4 separate regions of the Homo sapiens genome follow, and all the other regions are reported to be linked to region 1. The links are microRNA targets in miRTarBase. Many come from high-throughput screens and were not tested one by one. Region 1 holds a microRNA gene; each other region holds the end of a gene's coding sequence.
The links. The annotated mature microRNA hsa-miR-3195 reads CGCGCCGGGCCCGGGUU and lies in region 1 at 2,849-2,865, opposite strand. An mRNA with a match to its seed (bases 2 to 7 or 8) in the 3' UTR can be bound and repressed. Matches are read on the target gene's strand: a 7mer-m8 pairs with bases 2 to 8, a 7mer-A1 pairs with bases 2 to 7 and ends in A, and an 8mer does both.

Region 2: the mRNA of ISL2 is a reported target of hsa-miR-3195. The part of its 3' UTR that is shown has no 7-base or 8-base seed match.
Region 3: the mRNA of RHBDD1 is a reported target of hsa-miR-3195. Seed matches in the 3' UTR shown: 7mer-m8 at 2,971-2,977.
Region 4: miRTarBase lists REPIN1 as a target of hsa-miR-3195. The part of its 3' UTR that is shown has no 7-base or 8-base seed match.

The regions. Positions count from the first base shown.
Region 1 is chr20:62,063,201-62,067,676 of GRCh38, reverse strand. MIR3195 (microRNA 3195) reads right to left here and starts at 2,875; the gene lies at 2,792-2,875. It overlaps TAF4 (TATA-box binding protein associated factor 4), which reads left to right and starts at 1,796. Exons shown (of 15, transcript NM_003185.4): 1 at 1,796-3,226. The coding sequence starts at 1,867. It overlaps LOC105372705 (a long non-coding RNA gene), which reads right to left and starts at 1,223. Exons shown (of 2, transcript XR_936960.3): 1 at 986-1,223; 2 at 1-735. RefSeq lists enhancers at 507-1,020, 2,049-2,563, 2,564-3,077, 3,078-3,592, 3,593-4,106 and silencers at 1,016-1,395, 1,656-1,765, 2,026-2,115.
Region 2 is chr15:76,341,176-76,345,651 of GRCh38, reverse strand. ISL2 (ISL LIM homeobox 2) reads right to left here. Exons shown (of 6, transcript NM_145805.3): 5 at 4,351-4,476; 6 at 3,177-3,933. The coding sequence ends at 3,817. It overlaps LOC124903532, which reads left to right and starts at 2,228. Exons shown (of 1, transcript XM_047433420.1): 1 at 2,228-3,259. The coding sequence starts at 2,228. The coding sequence ends at 2,872.
Region 3 is chr2:226,994,528-226,999,003 of GRCh38, reverse strand. RHBDD1 (rhomboid domain containing 1) reads right to left here. Exons shown (of 9, transcript NM_001167608.3): 9 at 1-3,573. The coding sequence ends at 3,482. It also overlaps a transcript of COL4A4 not described here. Among named protein-coding and RNA genes, the nearest start is that of RHBDD1, 160 kb to the right of the region's middle. RefSeq lists enhancers at 3,046-3,547, 2,727-3,926.
Region 4 is chr7:150,371,712-150,376,187 of GRCh38, reverse strand. It overlaps REPIN1 (replication initiator 1), which reads right to left. Exons shown (of 3, transcript NM_001099695.2): 3 at 2,149-4,476. The coding sequence ends at 3,243. It overlaps REPIN1-AS1 (REPIN1 antisense RNA 1), which reads left to right and starts at 3,245. Exons shown (of 4, transcript NR_183429.1): 1 at 3,245-3,347. RefSeq lists enhancers at 2,521-2,670, 2,731-2,850.

The sequences.
Region 1 (4,476 bases):
TGCTTCTGCCCCGACTCCAATCTGAGGGGTCTGTGGGTATGGGCTGTGCAGTGAGCCTGGTGCGCCCCACCTTGCAAGTTGTGCGTGGGGCCAGTTAGCCTGCCTGTGCTTTGACCTGCTTTAAAAATGTTCTAATTAGTTGTCAACACTCAAAAATTAAAAATCCCGAGATTTAATCATCACTTTATATTTCTGTTCTTTCTGGAAAACTCAGACTGTCCCCCTACTGAGCTCAAGGTGCTCCGTAGGTGTACCCACAGGGGCCCTCCCCGCCATACTCAGCTTGCTTCATTCATTTCCTTTCCTGCCTTCTGGGAGCCAAAGTTCAGGTACAAAACTCCAGCTGTACGTTTGCAGTGATTTCCCCCAAACACTGTTCCCCTATAGGGGAGGCACCTCTCCTAGGCTCCGTCCTCAATGCTCATTGGCTGCTGCTGCTGTCGAGAAACAAGCCTGGGGTGAAGTCCCGTATTCCAGTTATCAGTAAGTCCATTCCTTTGCAAGGCTACAGTTCGAACAGGCACAAGGGTCCAGTTCGGGTCTGCTTTCGAGACTAGCAGTCTCCTTTGTTAAAGCAATTAAAAAAATCATTTTCTTTGTCAGCAACGTCATTCATCGTCCCGAGGTCTCTGCTTATTGCGGCGCTGTCTTCAGCTGCGAAGACTGACCCTGTGGCCTCTTGGCCCCAGTGAGGTCCGAGGCAAGGAAGCGTCTCTCTGAAACCTATTCTGGGCTCTTAGGAAGAAATGAGAGAAAGGAAAACCACTAGAAATGTCCAATAACACCATCTTTTGGTTGGAAAATAAAACACGCAGAAAGAGGGGACTGGAACTTTTACTGAAGTATTTCTAGAGAGAAGGTGCTTGGGAACACTTTAGGTAACTTACTCCCCTCCCCCAGCAGAAGGTAAAAAAAGCTACTTCCAGACGTGCCGGCTTCAGGCTCGGGAACTTCGTTTGGCGCCTGGCAAGCACCGTGCTCTTACCTACGGGCTTATACGACACTCCTGTCTCCAAGGCAGCTGGGTGCGGGGACAGTCAGCCCGGGGCGGCTGGGTTTATTGATTAAAAATGGAGGGAAGGGCCAGGGGTGGTCACGATTGGAGGGCGAGAAGAGCCGTGCGCGCAGGACCCCTCCCCACCGCCCGGGACCGGCTGAGCCAGAGGCGGACCCAGCTTCCCCGCGGCGGCTTGGAGGGGCCGGGCGCCGGTCCCCGTCCCCAGGGCGCGCTGCGACAGTCCCCTCCCCGTTCCCGCCCGCCTCCCAGGCCCATCCACTCCAGGGCCTGCGCGCCGCCCGGCGGCGCCCCGGCATCCCCGCGCGCTGTTCCCCGGGCCTCGGACGGGCCCTGCGCCGCCGCTGCCACCGCGCACGGCGCCCGCCCGGCGCTCCCGTCAGCGCCGCCGCAGCCATTTTGGAGCGAGCCGAGACAAAGAGCGAGGCCCCGTCGCCGCCCCGCGCCCGCCTCGGCCCGGCCCAGCGCACCGTTCCCGCATCCCGCGCCCCGCCCGGCGGCCCCCTCCCCGTCCGCCACCGCCCCGGCGCCCGCGCCCCTGAGCTCCAGCCCCCGCGCTTCCCGCCGCTGCTGCCGCACCCCGGCCGACCGCCCGCGCCCCGGCCTCTAGCGCTCGCAGCCATTGGCCGCGCCTTTTAAGCGCGCGCCGCAGCCAATCGCCGGGCGCCCGCGGTCTCCGCGCCTGCGCAGGGCCGCCACCCCCGCTCCCCCGCCCCCCGGCCGCGCGCCCCCGCCCCCCGCCGGCCGCGCGCCGCCCCCCGCCCGCCCAGCGCCCGCCCCAGTCGGAACCTCCTCCTCGCCCAGGCGCGCTCGGCCCGAGCGGCGGCGGCGGCGGCGGCCGAGGAAAAAAGATGGCGGCGGGCTCGGATCTGCTGGACGAGGTCTTCTTCAACAGCGAGGTGGACGAGAAAGTGGTGAGCGACCTGGTGGGCTCGCTGGAGTCGCAGCTGGCGGCCAGCGCGGCCCACCACCACCACCTCGCGCCGCGCACGCCCGAGGTGCGGGCCGCGGCCGCCGGCGCGCTCGGGAACCATGTTGTGAGCGGCAGCCCGGCCGGAGCCGCGGGCGCAGGGCCGGCCGCCCCCGCCGAGGGCGCGCCCGGAGCGGCGCCGGAGCCGCCCCCCGCAGGTAGAGCGCGGCCGGGGGGCGGGGGGCCGCAGCGCCCGGGCCCCCCCTCACCGCGCCGCCCCCTTGTCCCCGCAGGGCCCGCGCCGCCCGCCGCGAAGCTGAGGCCGCCGCCCGAGGGCAGCGCGGGGTCCTGCGCCCCGGTGCCCGCCGCCGCCGCCGTCGCCGCGGGGCCCGAGCCCGCCCCCGCCGGCCCCGCCAAGCCCGCCGGCCCCGCCGCGCTGGCCGCCCGCGCCGGCCCCGGCCCCGGGCCCGGCCCCGGCCCCGGCCCCGGCCCTGGCCCTGGCAAGCCCGCCGGCCCCGGCGCCGCGCAAACTTTGAATGGGAGCGCCGCGCTGCTGAACTCGCACCACGCCGCCGCACCTGCTGTCAGCCTGGTCAACAACGGGCCCGCCGCGCTGCTGCCGCTGCCCAAGCCCGCCGCCCCCGGCACTGTCATCCAGACGCCCCCCTTCGTGGGCGCCGCCGCGCCCCCCGCGCCCGCCGCGCCCTCGCCCCCCGCCGCCCCCGCGCCCGCCGCCCCCGCCGCCGCCCCGCCCCCGCCACCCCCCGCGCCCGCCACTCTGGCCCGGCCGCCCGGCCACCCCGCCGGACCCCCGACCGCCGCGCCCGCCGTGCCGCCCCCCGCCGCCGCCCAGAACGGGGGCAGCGCCGGGGCAGCCCCCGCCCCCGCCCCGGCCGCCGGGGGCCCCGCGGGGGTCAGCGGCCAACCCGGGCCCGGCGCGGCGGCTGCGGCGCCGGCGCCGGGGGTCAAGGCCGAGTCGCCCAAGAGGGTGGTGCAGGCGGCGCCCCCGGCGGCGCAGACCCTGGCGGCCAGCGGCCCGGCCAGCACGGCGGCCAGCATGGTCATCGGGCCAACTATGCAAGGGGCGCTGCCCAGCCCGGCCGCCGTCCCGCCGCCCGCCCCCGGGACCCCCACCGGGCTGCCCAAAGGCGCGGCCGGCGCAGTGACCCAGAGCCTGTCCCGGACGCCCACGGCCACCACCAGCGGGATTCGGGCCACCCTGACGCCCACCGTGCTGGCCCCCCGCTTGCCGCAGCCGCCTCAGAACCCGACCAACATCCAGAACTTCCAGCTGCCCCCAGGTGAGTGGCCGCACGGGGCGGGAGGGAAGGGCGGCTCCCAGCAGCGCCAGCTGCCAGTTCCAGGAAGTTCTCCGCTGGTGGAATGCTAAGGTCATCTGTCCCGTAGGCCCGTGGCTGGAGCAGGCCGAGGGGCAGTCTCTACCCAGGTGCGGGGCCAGCCCGGGTGGCTGTCTGCGAGTGAGCCAGAGGGAGTCGGCATAGCCTGCGTCCCTGTCGCTGTCCCTGACGTCCGCGCTGGCTGCCTGTGCCTGGGGCTGGTCTGTTTCGGAGTGGCTCAGCCAGGACTCTTAGTGGAGTGGTCCTTACCTGCTCCCGCCCTATGCGTCCCTGCCCGGGTTGGTAGGCTCAGCGCAGGGGCTCCCTGGGCCAGGCGATGGGGTCTGCAGAGCTGAGGGCAGTACCTGGGGCTGTGAGTGGCAGCAGCTGTCCCCTGCTCAGTTCTGCAGTTAGGCGTGTGGCCTGTGTCCCCACTTAGCCTTTCTGCCCCTTGGTGACCCTGGGCTCGAGCCTCTTCAGTCTCCAGGCGAGGACGGGGGCGCGACGCCCCCTCCTTGAGGCTCGGGAACTCTGGATGGAAGGCTTGGGCTCCTCTGCTGCCACCAGGCAGGGAGAGATGTCAGGCGCATCCTGCGAGAGTCCTCCCGGCGCGCAGCCTTGCTGAGAGCCACGCTGTGGAGTAGGGTTTCAGCACCGTGTGTGTCACTGTCTCTTCCAGAGCTGCGTTGGTGCCTAAAGGAAGGAGCGCCTAGCTACTCTGGTTGCTGCCCCCTCGGGAGGGCAGTGGGAGGGCGGTGGCAGCAGATGTTCTCGCTCCGTGCAGGGGTCTCGGGGCGATACTGGCTATGCTGCGGATGCCTGGGGCTCCGACGCCACTTCCGCCTGGCAGTTCTCACGCTCCTGTCTAGTCTGCTGTCTCTGCGACTCCTCAGGGCCCCTCAAGTTTGACAGGAAAGATTGCCTGGCCAGCATTGCTGCTTTTGTCTGGGGCTCCCCGTCCCTCCCCAGCCGCCGTGGTGGGTGCTGGGCAGGGGAGCTCCTCCCCGGCCTGTGGTGACGCGTGCCGTGCAGTTGTAGCAGCGCGGTGGCAGCAGTAGTAGGAACTGCAAGGAGAGCGTGGGTCCCTCCTGCGTCCCCTCTCTGAATGGAGCTATTGGTCACTTTGACAGGGTTGCAGAATCTTCAGAAGTGAAAGGATTTCTTGTCCAAGTATGTGAGGTTCGGGGCTGGTGGTCAGACTCTGGACAGGGCAG
Region 2 (4,476 bases), not on the chromosome of region 1:
TTCATCTGCATCTTTCATGCACAGTCTCCATCAACAAGGTGCTAGTCTGTACTTGGCCACACAATCCTCATTACTGCACTGAATCCCAGTATTTTCAAGAAAGTTTACTTTTACATCAATCAGACCCCGATTTAAAAGCCTCTAATCTTTCCCGCATCAGCTTCATAAACTCTGAATTTCCTGCTTTTATCACCACTCCCCTGGGAACTTCTCTGCAAATATTCATCCATTGTTTCTCTCTCTAGCATGCTGCTATTTGGCTAATTCTCTTACTCTCTTTGGTGAACACCCATGAGAAAGCACAGCTAACTAAATGTGTGGCCATCTGTGTCCTCCCCTAGGCAGAAGAGGTAGAACCTCAAATTTTCTAGAGAACAATCTTAGACAATATCCATTTAAACCCTGTATTGGCAGCTCTGACAAAATTGAGCTTTGTTATTCCATATTCAAAACACAAAGCCTGATTTCTGTTCCACAATCCATTAAATATTAAAGTTTGTTGGGAATACTGCCACAGGGACTCTGAATTTCCCAGAATTATGCAGTCTTTCAATATGTATTAAATTTTGTGTAAAAACTTATAGCCATAAACTGTCTATCTCTGGGAATCCCTTTCCTTCCTCAATTGCATAGAGCTATCCAAATTAATAGTTAAGTCTTCTGAGAAAATCGTATTCTAAAGTGAATCTAGCTAAATAACTCCCACTTTCCACCTATGGCCTCTTTTATTGAATTTTTTACTATGCAATTGGGTATCTCATATTAAAAGTTCAGTAAGTATAAAATACAACACTTGTCATTGTTACAGGTAATTTAATTTATGGGGAAATCCCTACTGTATTACAAAAGATGTTTAAAGATGACTTGGGAACCCGTAAAACTGATATTTATTAATGTAACTAACCAAGCGTAGATGTGACACCTCACTAGGGACCACTGTAATAAGGCTTCAGAGTTGAATCCTTTCCCTGGAAACCCACATAGAAAACGATGCACCCCTTTGGGTGGGTAGCAACTATGGAAGAGAAAAGCTTGTAATGTTTTGTACAGTGATACAGAGAGATGCAGGAATCTTAACACACAATAACCACTTTTATCTAGGTAACTTCCCAATATTCAAAAAAGACAGACACAATCATATAAATAACAAAAAGAGGAATTTGATTTTTGATTCATGGATGATGAGGAAAGAGATAACTAATTAGATGTTGAGATAACTAATGTAGACGTTTCCATTCATAGCGTTAAAACGCTGCAATCTGTCAAAAGCAAAAATTCAGAGCTAATTAACCATTAATGAAATTCTTTATTCAATAACCTGTTATTTCCTTTTTAAAAAAAATGAGAAAACCCAAATATTCTGGATAAATCAAAAGTTTTTGACAGTGAGATTTATTCGAAGTTTTAGCCCCCTATCTAATGGCCAGCCAGAAGGTAAAAGGAGAAATCTGTATTTCTGTTGGGAAGGAATGGTCTAAGTTAAAGAAAGGAAGCCTCAAAGAACCCAGACCTGATTATTAAAGCCATTTCTGGGCACTTGAGAGGTAAAGCTGGTCCTCATTAACTCTGCATATCTCTTCCCTTATCTCTAAGTTTGCAGCAGCATTTCCTATATCCCAAAGAAGGGGAATGTTCCCTTTAATATTTGTGCCAGCATCACCTTGACATTCAGGAAGTAAAATATAAATGCAGCTCCATTTTCCCACCTCCCATTTTCTTTCAGTAATTGCCAGCAAGCCTTCCATCATCTGCAAGTGGGGTGGGGGCAGTGTGAAGGAATTCTGCTAAAAGCGCTGCTGAAAAACCCACAGTGGCCTTTGGCCATCCAAGCAGCCATGGCTAACAGAAGGCACCTACTTTTCTATCTGAAGACTACAGGGCCCCCCAGACACGTTTTCCTTGCCAGCCCCTACCTAAGCTAAGATGGCAACTATCCCCTACCCAGTTAGGGCGTTGCCCACTTTCAAAACAAACCTTGGACAAAGAAGGATATGCTTGTGGGTCGCTTAACTCGAGGGACAGGGAAACGACAACTCAACGCCAGATGTTCTTACAACAGCGGTGGACTAACTGGTAGTCGGGAAGCTCCCTCAGTCCACTAAGTGAAGGCTGGTCTTGGAAAAGAACTGTCCCAGGCTGCCAAAGGGTTAAATATTTGTAAAGAGTAAAACCTGAGCCTCCGTGGGTTTTTTTTCTTTCTTTCTTTTGGGGTTTTTTGTTTTTGTGTATGCGCGGTTGCCCGGAGGCCTACTGGAGATTCAGTATCTCTCGGTTATTTCCTGCGATCACTAAAGCCAGTTTTCAAGAAAACAAGTCGCAGGGGTTTGAAATGTCACACCAAGTGACCTGGGCACGGCATATCCAGGGGCCATTCCCAGCTCCCTCCCACCCGGGCCACCCCCGACCCCCTCCACTTCGGTCTGGAAAGAAAATAAACCAAGGACACGCCAGACTGGTTCTGGGTGGACTTATTTTCCCGGCAGCCGCGCTCCTAGCGGGGGCTCGTTGCGGCCCCTCGGTGTATCGCTTGCAGGTGATGCCAAACGCAGATAAGCAGCCGCCGCCCGGCCCCCGCCTCTGTCTAGACTGTGGAATTAATAAATGCCGCGGATTGATCACGTCGCGCATCCACTCCGGGGACAGCGCGGGGCACGGCCCGTCACGGCCGCCCGCTCTGGCCGGGGTTGGCCTCACTGCTGTGCTGCAGGGCCAGGGGCAGCGCGCGGGGCTTCGAGCCTCACCCAGGGCCGCGGACCGCTGGGGAAGGAAGCGCCGGGAGGGCCCGCGGCGCCGAGCGAGAGTGGGGCTCGGGGCTCGGCAGGCGCCAGGCCAAGGCTGGTTCCGGGAGCGGGGCGCGCCCTCGCCCGCATAACCCTAGGCCGGAGTCCGCCGCTCAACCGCCACAAGTGCCGCAGGTTTCCCGCCCAAACGGGTCCCGCCTCCTGCCCGCGGGCCTGGGCCGCCAGGTGCCCAGGGGTCGCCAATGGGGCGCTCCTGCTTCTGGGAGGGCCCTCAGCGCGCATGCGCCCAGCCCCACCCCCTCGGCCGCGCCCAATCCCCACCGGGCCCGCCCCGCCCGCAGCACGCGGAGCCCCGGCAGCCGACGCCAGCCTGACCCCTGAACTGGCCTCCGCCGGCCCTCCCGCCGCGCCAACAGCACAGAGGAGTGGCGTCGCCCCGGGTTATTATTTTTTATTAAGATCAAAATACAAGTCCCACTATGAACTGGCTGTTCTCACAATAAATAACAATAACTTACGTTTGTTTGTTCGGCAAAGGCTCACATACTCTGTCCTCCGTCGAATAACTTAAACACTTTCAAGGCAAGTCTGGTTTCTACTGTTTCCCAGCAATCATGCGCTTTGGGAGTTTGAGTGTCTGTTCCTCTGAGTTATCCCCTTCCTTTTCCCCGCTAGGAGCCCGGGCGAAGCCGCCAGGGAGCGCTGAGCTGGGGCAGGGCGGGGGTCCGCGTGGGCGAGCTCCGGGCCGGCCGAGATGGGGACACAGGTGGGGCGTGGAGAGACAGAGCGGCGGCCACGTAGAGAGGAGAGGAGAGGGCAGAGCTAACCCTGGTAAGTCCCAGATTCTGGTTTTGAAAAACTAAGAGTCCTCGGAGCAGGGGTCTGCAGTCTGGTGAAAGCAGGTTGCATCCTGGCGCCTTGGGCTGTCCAGACCGTGTCTCTCGGTACTCTCTCATAAATAACAATAGAATAATTACGAAGGCGAGAGAGCTTTCGGAACTGGAATGGCCTGAGCATGGGTGAGTCTCATGCAGGGAGCATGCGAGGTCCGCGGGCTGGCAGGGAGGGGTCCCCCTCACGTCTCCACGGGACTCGGCACCATACTGTTGGGGGTGTCCGGGAGCTGCGAGGACAGGGAGGTCACGTCGCTGCCGGAGGAGTTGCCTAGGGAGCCGGACTCGGAGAAGGAGACCTGGGGCGGCGGAAACACCGGGAAGAGGCAGGTGAAGAGGCACGCGAGCTGGTGCTCCAGGGCCGCGTGCTCCGAGTCGGAAAGTGTCCCTTGGGGACCGGCCGCCAGCTGAGAGCAAGCCCTGCGGAGAAGGAGGCCAGGTCCCCAGGCGCACGAGGGGGGGATTAGGGCGGGGGAGCGGGTTGGTTAATCCTGCGACCTCTCTTGTGAGCACTTTAATCCAGGGAGACCTGGTTTAGGGCGCGTAATGGGCCGAGGTGAGGTTTCAGAGCCCGCCACTGTTCCCCCTCCCCCACCGCCTAGGGCTGTACCCAGCCCCTCAGCCCAAGGCCACCCCCTCCCCTCTCTGCCAGGCTAAGTGGCTAAATCCCCAACCCGCAGAGTCCCGAGGTCGGGGCGGGTAGGGCAGGGCCTCACCAGCTGTTGGAAGGCGGGTTGGTCCAGGTCGCTCTGGAGGGCAAACTCGCTGAGCGCCTTCCACGGCGGCTGGTACGTCTGCACCTCCACTGCGCTGCCCTGCACGGCGTTCTCATGGCGGATGGG
Region 3 (4,476 bases), not on the chromosome of region 1:
GATTCAGATGGGGGCTGGATGAGGAGGATCTGAATGGGCCAAGAGAGAGGAAAGAGCTGTTCCATGTAAAAGCACAGCACAGAATGTCACAAGATCAGGAACACTCACAGCCTGAGCAGTGAGACTAGTTACCAGCCTCTGTGATGGATAAATGGGGCTGAGGTCCAAAGGCTGGTTGAAGCCCACTGTTGAGGCTAATGACTTTGACCTTTATCCTTTGGCAGCAGAGAGCCAATGAAAGGTATTTGAGATGCTGAGTGGCATCATGAAAGTGAATTTTGGAAGACTAAGCTGGAGTTATGTAGAATTGAGTGAGGAGGTATTGTTAAGTATTGAACAGAGCAAATAATTGAGATACTGTGACTCTCTAAGCTGAGAGTCTGTGATTCTAAAATAAAATACTAGCAGCCATGAAAAAAAAAGAGAAGAAACTTAGGGAATGACTGCAATGATTCATGGGAAGGGAAAGGAAGAAGTTATATATATATTTTTTGACTAATTGAATGCTATTCTTTACTGAATACTGAATCTCTCAAGAAAAACTAAGACTGGGAACAAGGAGGCCAGGTCTGCCAGCTACCCCATTCTCGCCCTGCCTTGCAGTGCAATTTCCAGGGTAGGGGGAGGTGGTCTTTCTCATCCCTTTAGCTTGCTTACTCCCCAGGCAGCAGAACATGTGCCAAATAGATAGACAGGATCTAGTTCTACTCAAACTAGTTATTTACTGCAGCAGGCAATTTAAAAGGATGGAGGAGGTCTGAACAATTATGTACAACTTTGGAATCACAGGCAATACATTCAGAGTCATTAAGAGGAAGCAATTTTAACTACTGCCTCCTCTTCAGAACCAAGTAAAGATTCTGCATTAAAAGGTCGCTTAAGTTGACTGACCACACCAAACTGTGGGAACCAGGGGCTTAACAGACAATCAGGGAGCTACTAATAAATAAACCAAATTAAAAAATTAGCTCTAAGTGCTTATTCCCTACTAGAGATAATTAGTCTAATACACTTGCTCACTTGCTTTTGTCTTTCTCAATCCAATTCCAGTTTGTTGGCATAACTTTAGGGATTCCTTATTGTAGAGGAAAATAAAATAAAATGGACATTCCAAACATAAGCACTTGTTACAGGCAAGTCCATTAACTAAAATAATTATAATAATTTCCAGAACATCTTTATTGTTGTGCTAAAGTAATTGGTTTACATTTATAACTAAAATGACCTTTCTCACATCACTAAGATGTTCCACTCCATCAACAGCCATGCGTATCACAATTTTACCACCCAAAATCTAATCCCGTGTCTTTGTATCTGACAAGTCAAACAGAGCAAGGAAGTACTACTAGTGGACTCAAGTGATATAAAAAAATAAAAAATAAAATACTTCCATATACAGTGACTGGACTCTTAATACAATGGAAAAAATACTTTGGTGAAACACTGACATTTAGTGAGCCCCTATCGTGAGCCTTTGGGGTTGGAAAGGGGAGACGGGGAGTGAGTGGAAAGATAACTAAGACTCAGGCCTCATTACAGAGTCATTCACAATCCATGTTCCCACGTAGAAGGCACACCTTTGTGTAGCTGTGCACAGTTAATAATAGGGGCAAGATGTGTTATAGCAGAATTACCAAATGCTATAAAAGTGGCATGAAACAAAGAAGTTACTTCTAATTGGGGTAACGGGAGTCAAACTTACAGAATTTGGGAGAGAGCAGTAACATTTAGCTTGAATATTTTAATTTAAACACATTTAAAGCTTCTAGACTCACAGGTACAATTTATATTATAAAGAAGATGTAGTTTTATATCAGTTATAAATTAACCAAAGGAGCTCAGATATTACTGGGCCAGCCAGGAGGCCAAAGAGCTCCCAAGGCTCCAGTGGTTTTCTTAGCTCATTTCCATGCAGGTGTCAAGGCCTCTTCCAGGTAAATTCAGATTGGATTTGGACACAAAACTCCATGGTCAATGTGCTCCAAATTTGCTGAATGTATCAACGGAAAAATTGATAAGACAATACCACCAAAATGTTAACCCTGGGTACCTCTAAGGGTAGGGCTACAGGTGACTTTAAAATTGTGTATGTATTTATTTGTATTTCTGTTTATATTGTGAATTTTCTCAATGGACACATAGTATTTATTTTTAAGTCTGTTTTCTTGACTATATGTTATTAAATATGTTTTCCTGATTGTAAAAGTAACACACACACATAAACACATCTTCCAAGACAGTAATATAAAATTATAAAAATGAAGAAAGCAAAATCCCATGTACTCCACTCCCAAAGATAACCCCTGCTAAGATTTGGGTATATTTCTTTCCAGATGTTTGCCTTATGCATCTGGAAGGCATATCTATTATGTGCATAATCAGAAAACTATATAAGTTGTAGATCAAAAAAGGAAGATCTTTTCCTGCTTCTCTCTTTTAAAATATCTCTGTTGACAGTAAGACATCAGTGATCTTCTGACTTTGTCCTTTTATTCATGGAACACAAGCACCAGGAAATGCCTTAAACGACTCAGACAGACAATCTGTGGATTGTAACGTGGCGGGGCCCAAGGGCGTGTTTTGGACATTTGGCTAGGACAAGTGGCTGGTACAATGGCCAATTAAGAGGCACTTTTATGAGGAAAAACATACTTTCTGCAAGATAGATCTCTAGTGACCGATCCACCAAATGCCTTCGCTCTACTCTGTATGTGGCATCTGCTGCTACTTTGCTGATGCGTTAAATGATGTCCTATCTCCTGGACACACAAGCTGCCACTGGGAAGGGGCTGGGAACCTACATTGCTGGTGTCACTGATACTAATGGTGTGTGTAGGAGTCTTCCCCACCTTAGGTCTTTCTTACACTTCTTCAATAAGACTTTCTATAAAGGCAGAGCAATACCAGAGCAGAGCGAAAGCCCTGCAAACACCAGCCAGACGCAGGGGCCCGAGGAGCTGAGGAGCTGAGGCGCCGGGGTTGGGGAGAGTAGGACAACATTCGGCCAAGGCAGCCACATCCTGTTCCTGGACAGCCACAGTGGCAATGCGCCAGGAGGACGCGGGGATGGCTCCACACCCGCTGCCAAGTCAAACACGGGGCACTCCAGGCAGAATGAGGGACTAATCTTCCCGACTGGTGTAAGTAAAACCTCCTGGTGAAGGTCACAGTCTTCAAAAGCAGACCGAGGCAGAGGCATCGCTGAGTCAGCAGTGAGAGATGGGAGCGTGGAAACTGGTCTCTTCATGGAGGAAGTGACCTGTTTATGAGCAAGAACAAGGCCAGGAGAAGGCCCACTCCCCGCAAGCTGTGAGTTGACTCATAGGGGCCATGGGACTGTCCCAGGTGATGTGAGCGATCTGGAGCAATACCGGTGTACTCTGCTTTTGTTTAAAATGAATTAAAATGAATTAGGGGCTTGGGGAATGAGCCAAATGGGCAATAATTACACGAATAGGCCATGTCTTCCCAAGATGCCACCTCACTGGCTATCGAATCTGTGAAGCCGCTGTCTCCTCATTTCTTCTGGTGAGAGATGAAACCCGTAGGGTGGTGGGCTATTTCTGGTATTTCCTGTAGTGAGAAAGCCAAAGGAAAAATCAATCATTCTGACGTGACAAGGCATGTGTACCCTAGGATTCCAAGGGAACAAAGTGATAGCTTGGGTGTCATCTTCATTTTAACACAAAACAGAAATATAACAAAGATTTTTCAACTTCAGCTGTCAGTACTAAATTTCAACGTCAAGTAAATATTTTTAGAGTGGTTCAGCCATGAATCTGATTTGACTCATTTTGAGGCTTCTTGATAATCTTCCCACTTGTATTTTTCCTTCCATCGTGCTCCATAATTTGCATCATTTAGGCTTACACAGTATCTCAAGGGCTTATTGTCTTTTTTTTTTTATGCCCATATATAACTTGTTGCCACCTTTACTAACTTCCCCACCAACTAGGCTGGTTTGGCTTCTTCTGATCAGCCTTTGGGTGCTCCTTTTCTTCCCTCTAATGTGCCGCCTCCTGCCCCAATGTGGCCAATAAGAATCATGCGTGATTGAAACACACAAGCAACCACTGGAGCAGAGTTACCATACTGATCAATATCTGGGCAGGTAAACAAAGATGTAGGCATCATATTTCAAGATCATATGAAGGACTGTGGAAATCGTTACTGAAAAGAGTTTCTTAGGGATGCAAACTTACCAAAAACACAGTTTGTAATGATACAAGAATTTCAATCACTACATAAGAAAGCATTCTCCCAGGCATCATGAGTAGTAATAAAGGGAGAAAAATACATAGTCCTTGATCTCAAGGAACCAGCAACCTAAAGGTAATGAAAGAGCTTCAATATTCCCCATGAGGAAACCAGGAAGACACATCACTGATAGATACGGGTAAGTAGAGGTTTACTTCTAAGCATGGGGACCAAAAAGGCTGTACCTTTTCACTACTATAGCTCTGCTAACCTTGGTAA
Region 4 (4,476 bases), not on the chromosome of region 1:
CTCTGGTGATTACCAGTTATATGACTGTGGGCAAATGTTTTCATGTATAAAAGAAGACTACCTCCCACACAAGGACACATGAGATAATTTAGGTAAACTTCACCAGGTGCCACTCACGTCAACAAATTGTGGTTATTCTTATGTGCTCTGTGCTAAATGCTGGAGATATATGCAGAAATTGCTAACACAGGCAAGAAAAGAACTATTAATGCCTGGTAAAAAGAGGTACTCAAATTTGTATGAAACCACCAATTCAGGGACGCATACAGAGTGACTGCTCACAGAAATCTGGAGTCCTACAGCAGGCCGGCCAGGGACACTGTAGGACAGAATCAAATCAGCCCCCTTTCCTGCCTAGCAACTAGCACCTGAAAAGTCTGACCTGACCTTGAGATGGAGCAGAGACCCTCTTTTTTAATTTTTTTTTATTTTTATTTTTTGAGACAGAGTTGTTGCCCAGGCTGGGGTGCCATGGCGCGATCTCGGCTCACTGCAACTTCTGCCTCCTGGGTTCAAGTGATTCTCCTGCCTCAGCCTGCCGAGTAGCTGGGATTACAGGCATGCACCACCATGCCCGGCTAATTTTGTATTTTTAGTAGAGACAGGGTTTCTCCATGTTGGTCAGGCTGGTCTCAAACTCCTAACCTCAGGTGATCCACCTGCCTCGGCCTCCCAAAGTGCTGGGATTACAGGCGTGAGCCACCACGCCCAGCCTCAGAGACTCCACTTAGGAGCCTGCTGGGTTCTGCCCATCACTTGAAAAGCATGAGAATAAACAAAAATGTGAGTCCCTCCCAGGGAAATTCCAGGCACCTAGCTAGCTCTACAACCATGAATTGGGGAAATGAATGAATAACCCGCTAAGCAAGAAAGTAATAATAGCTTAAACAATAGTCACTCAAGTAGTAGTCACAGAATGTTAGCTTCCTCATAGAAACTAAAGATAACATCTTTTTGTTTGTTTTGTTTTTTGGGTTGTTTGTTTGTTTTGAGACAAAGTCTTACTCTGTTGCCCAGGCTGGAATGCAGTGGCACGATCTCAGCTCATTGCAACCTCCGCCTCCCAGGTTCAAGCAATTCTCCTGCTTCAGCCTCCCTAGTAGCTGGGACTACAGGGGCCCGCCACCACACCCAGCTAATTTTGTATTTTTAGTAGAGATGGGGTTTCACCATGTTGGCCAGGCTGGTCTTGAACTCCTGACCTCAGGTGATCCACCCACCTCGGCCTCCCAAAGTGCCGGGATTACAGGCATGAGCCACCATGCCTGGCCTAAAGATAACATCTTGACATATATCCTTGAGTTGTTTTTCAGGAGCCAGGACCCCCACCAATGTCACCACGTGACAATGCCAGCACGTAGACCTCAGACAGACTGGAACCAGAAAATGGATAAGGAAGTTCCAGAAATTCCTCAGCCCCTAACTCCCTTTGAAACCTCCCCACCCCTGCCTTAAAAACCCTTGCTTAAAAGCCATCAGGGAGTTTGAGCCTTAGCTGCCCATTCTCCTCGCCTGGTGCTCTGCAATAAACGCCTTACTTTCTCTGGCTGCAAATCTCACTGTCGGTGTTAGGCTTTGCAAACACTGGGCAAGTGGACCCAGGCTGGGTTTGACAACAACCTCAAAGAAGGCTGAAACCCTGGTGTGTGGAGTGTGGAAGCTGAGTGCTGTCTTAGCTGCAGGGAACAGCCTCCCCTCCCAGAGGCTCCTTCATCTGTCCAACCTCTGAAGGACTACTGGAGGCACAGTCCAAGTATAACCAAAGTCCGTTTAACACCCAGCACCCCTCAAAAGAGCTCATAGTGCTTGCTGTAGTTTCATAAAGGCCCAGGTGGTGAGAAAGATTAGGTGTTGCTGGGCCCATCTAGGAGGGCAAGTGACCAAGAACATAAATCTTGGGACCAAGCTGAGAGCATTCCACCCACCACAGTTCTCTGGAGCTTCGGCCCACCACCCAGAGAATTAGCCCAACTGCCTGGGTATGCTCAGGGAAGAACTGAGGCAGGGGGCCAGAGCTCAGCAAGCTGGGCATGTGGCCTGTGGCCAGAGCCCCACCCACAGCCCCCCGTCCTTCTAGGGAGGAGAGCATGCTGCTCCTCCTGACATGTCGCAGCTCCCCCAGAAAAAGTAACACTCCCCAGCCACCAGTTCTAAAACCAAATCTTTATTCTCTAGTTTGAAAAGGAGGGGTAAATGGTTGTTCTGTTTAGTTCCAGAGAACAGAACAAGGCCCAATAGGTAGAAATTATAGGAAAGCAGAATTCATTCATTATAAGGAAGGATTTCTAACAATTAGAATTTCTAACAATTAGAATCATCCAGGGCCTCAGGAGGTGCGGAAGTTCCTGTCACCTAAGTGCTCAAGCAGAGGCCAGGTGTCCATATGCTAGAAATGGAGAAAAGGAAACTCACCAGCAACTTCCCCTCAGCTGGCCCTCCATCACCAATGCGGCAGTCCTTGCCGTGACATGCTGAGCTCTGGAAGGAGCGAAGGAGGGGCTGCGGTGTTCAGACAAGAGCCTGGACACAGTGCTGCTGACAGCCAGGGGAGGCTCTCAGCGCTGGGAGGGGCGACAGATAAAGCGAGACAGACCAAGGAGTAAATGCCTTGGGATCTGCTCTTTGGGAAGGAAGAGGATGGAAGTATTAACAGCAGACGGGTCTCTCCAAGTCTGGGTGCCTACGCAGGGGGCAGGTGGGAGGGGAAGGGAGAGGTAAGAGTGGCTTCGCTTCACCTCTTGCTGCTGGCAAAGGCCCAAGTGCTGTCTAACAAGGCCAGCAGGTTCTCCAAGCTGTATCTAGCCCAGAGCATTCATTTACAGGACTCTACCACGCCTGCTTCCAAAAATGATCTTAAGTAACTTACAGTAAAAGACAGGGGCATTAAGGCGTTAATACCAGAGGATGGAGGGTCTTCCTTTCCACTGGTGGCTCCTCTAGCCAGAGGGCTCTAAGGGGCGGATGCTATTGCTGCTTTTCCAGGGCACAGGGCAGTCAGGACGGAGCCTTAGCACACACCAGCTGGAGGCCGGCGTCCCTGCGCTTGGAAGTGGGTTCCCTGGCCACCGGGGTTGACCTCTCTCGCTAGCAGGGCCCACCCAGCTCACTCCCCGCGTCTTCCATCCCCTCTAGGATTCCCATTGTCCCCTACTCCAGCACTAGGCAGGCACCCCCAGCCCACTGCGACTCCCACCACGAAGGACCCCAGCCCTCTCTCAGCCAACACGGCCCCGCCCACCGTCTCAGACATCGTGCTTCTTCTGGTGGGCCAGGAGTCTCTCCTCGTCGTCGAAGGTCTGGCCACAGATGGCACAGCAGAAGGCGCCGTCCCGGATGTGGCTCTTGCGGTGGGTGATGAGGTTGGACTTCTGGCTGAAGCTGCGGTCGCAGTCGGGACAGGCGTAGGGCCGCTCGCCCGTGTGGATGCGCCGGTGCGACACCAGGTTGGACTTCTGGCTGAAGGCTTTGCCGCAGTCGGGGCAGACGTAGGGCTTCTCGCCGGTGTGGATGCGCCGGTGCGCCGCCAGGTAGGGTTTGTGGCGGAAGGCCTTGCCGCAGTCGGGACACACGAAGGGCCGATCGGGGGCGTGGTCGCGCCGATGCGCCGCCAGATGGCTGCCCTGGGAGAAGCGGCGGCCGCACTCCTCGCAGGCGAAGGGCCGCTCGCCGGAGTGCACGCGCGAGTGCGCCACCAGGTGCGTCTTCTTGCCGAAGTTCTTCCCGCACTCGGCGCAGGTGAAGGGCCGCTCCCCGGTGTGCTGCCGCTGGTGGGCCCGCAGGAAGCGCTCCAGCCGGAAGCTCCTGCCGCAGTCGTCGCAGCTGTAGAGGGAGGGGGGGGCTTCGATCGGGTCCTGCGGGTGCTCTGGCGGGGCCCCTGGCGGCGGCTCCTGGGCCGGTTTCAGAGGTACCGCCGGGGTGGGCTCGGCCGCGGACTCCTGGGGGCCGGCTGGCAGCTGGGGGCTCCCCGGGCCGGGGGCGGCCTGGGCCGACCCCTCGGATCGCTTGTGAATCTTGCTGTGAGACAGCAGGTTGGGTTTGTGCCGGAAGCGGCGGCCGCACTCTTTGCACGGGTAGGGCTTCTCGCCGGTGTGGATGCGCCGGTGCGAAGTCAGATAGGGCTTATTGGTAAAGCGCTTCCCGCACTCGGGGCACTGGTGGGGCCGCTCGCCCGTGTGCACGCGGCGGTGAGCGATCAAGTTGGGCTTGTGCCGGAAGCGCTTGCCACAACAGGCACACTGGAAGGGGCGGTCGACGGCATCTCCACCGGGCCGGGGGGCGGTCACCGCGGGGCGGCCCCTGGGCCGGGGCCCCAGAGCCTTGGCTGCGGCCTCCTCCAGGGCCTCAGCTACGTGCACCCGCTTGTGGGCAACTAGCTGGTCCCACTGGGCAAAGCTCCGGCCACAGTTGCCGCATATGAAGGGCCGGGCCTCCGGGGCGGGAGGGTGGCACCGCCGCAGATGAGCTCGAAGCTGCTTT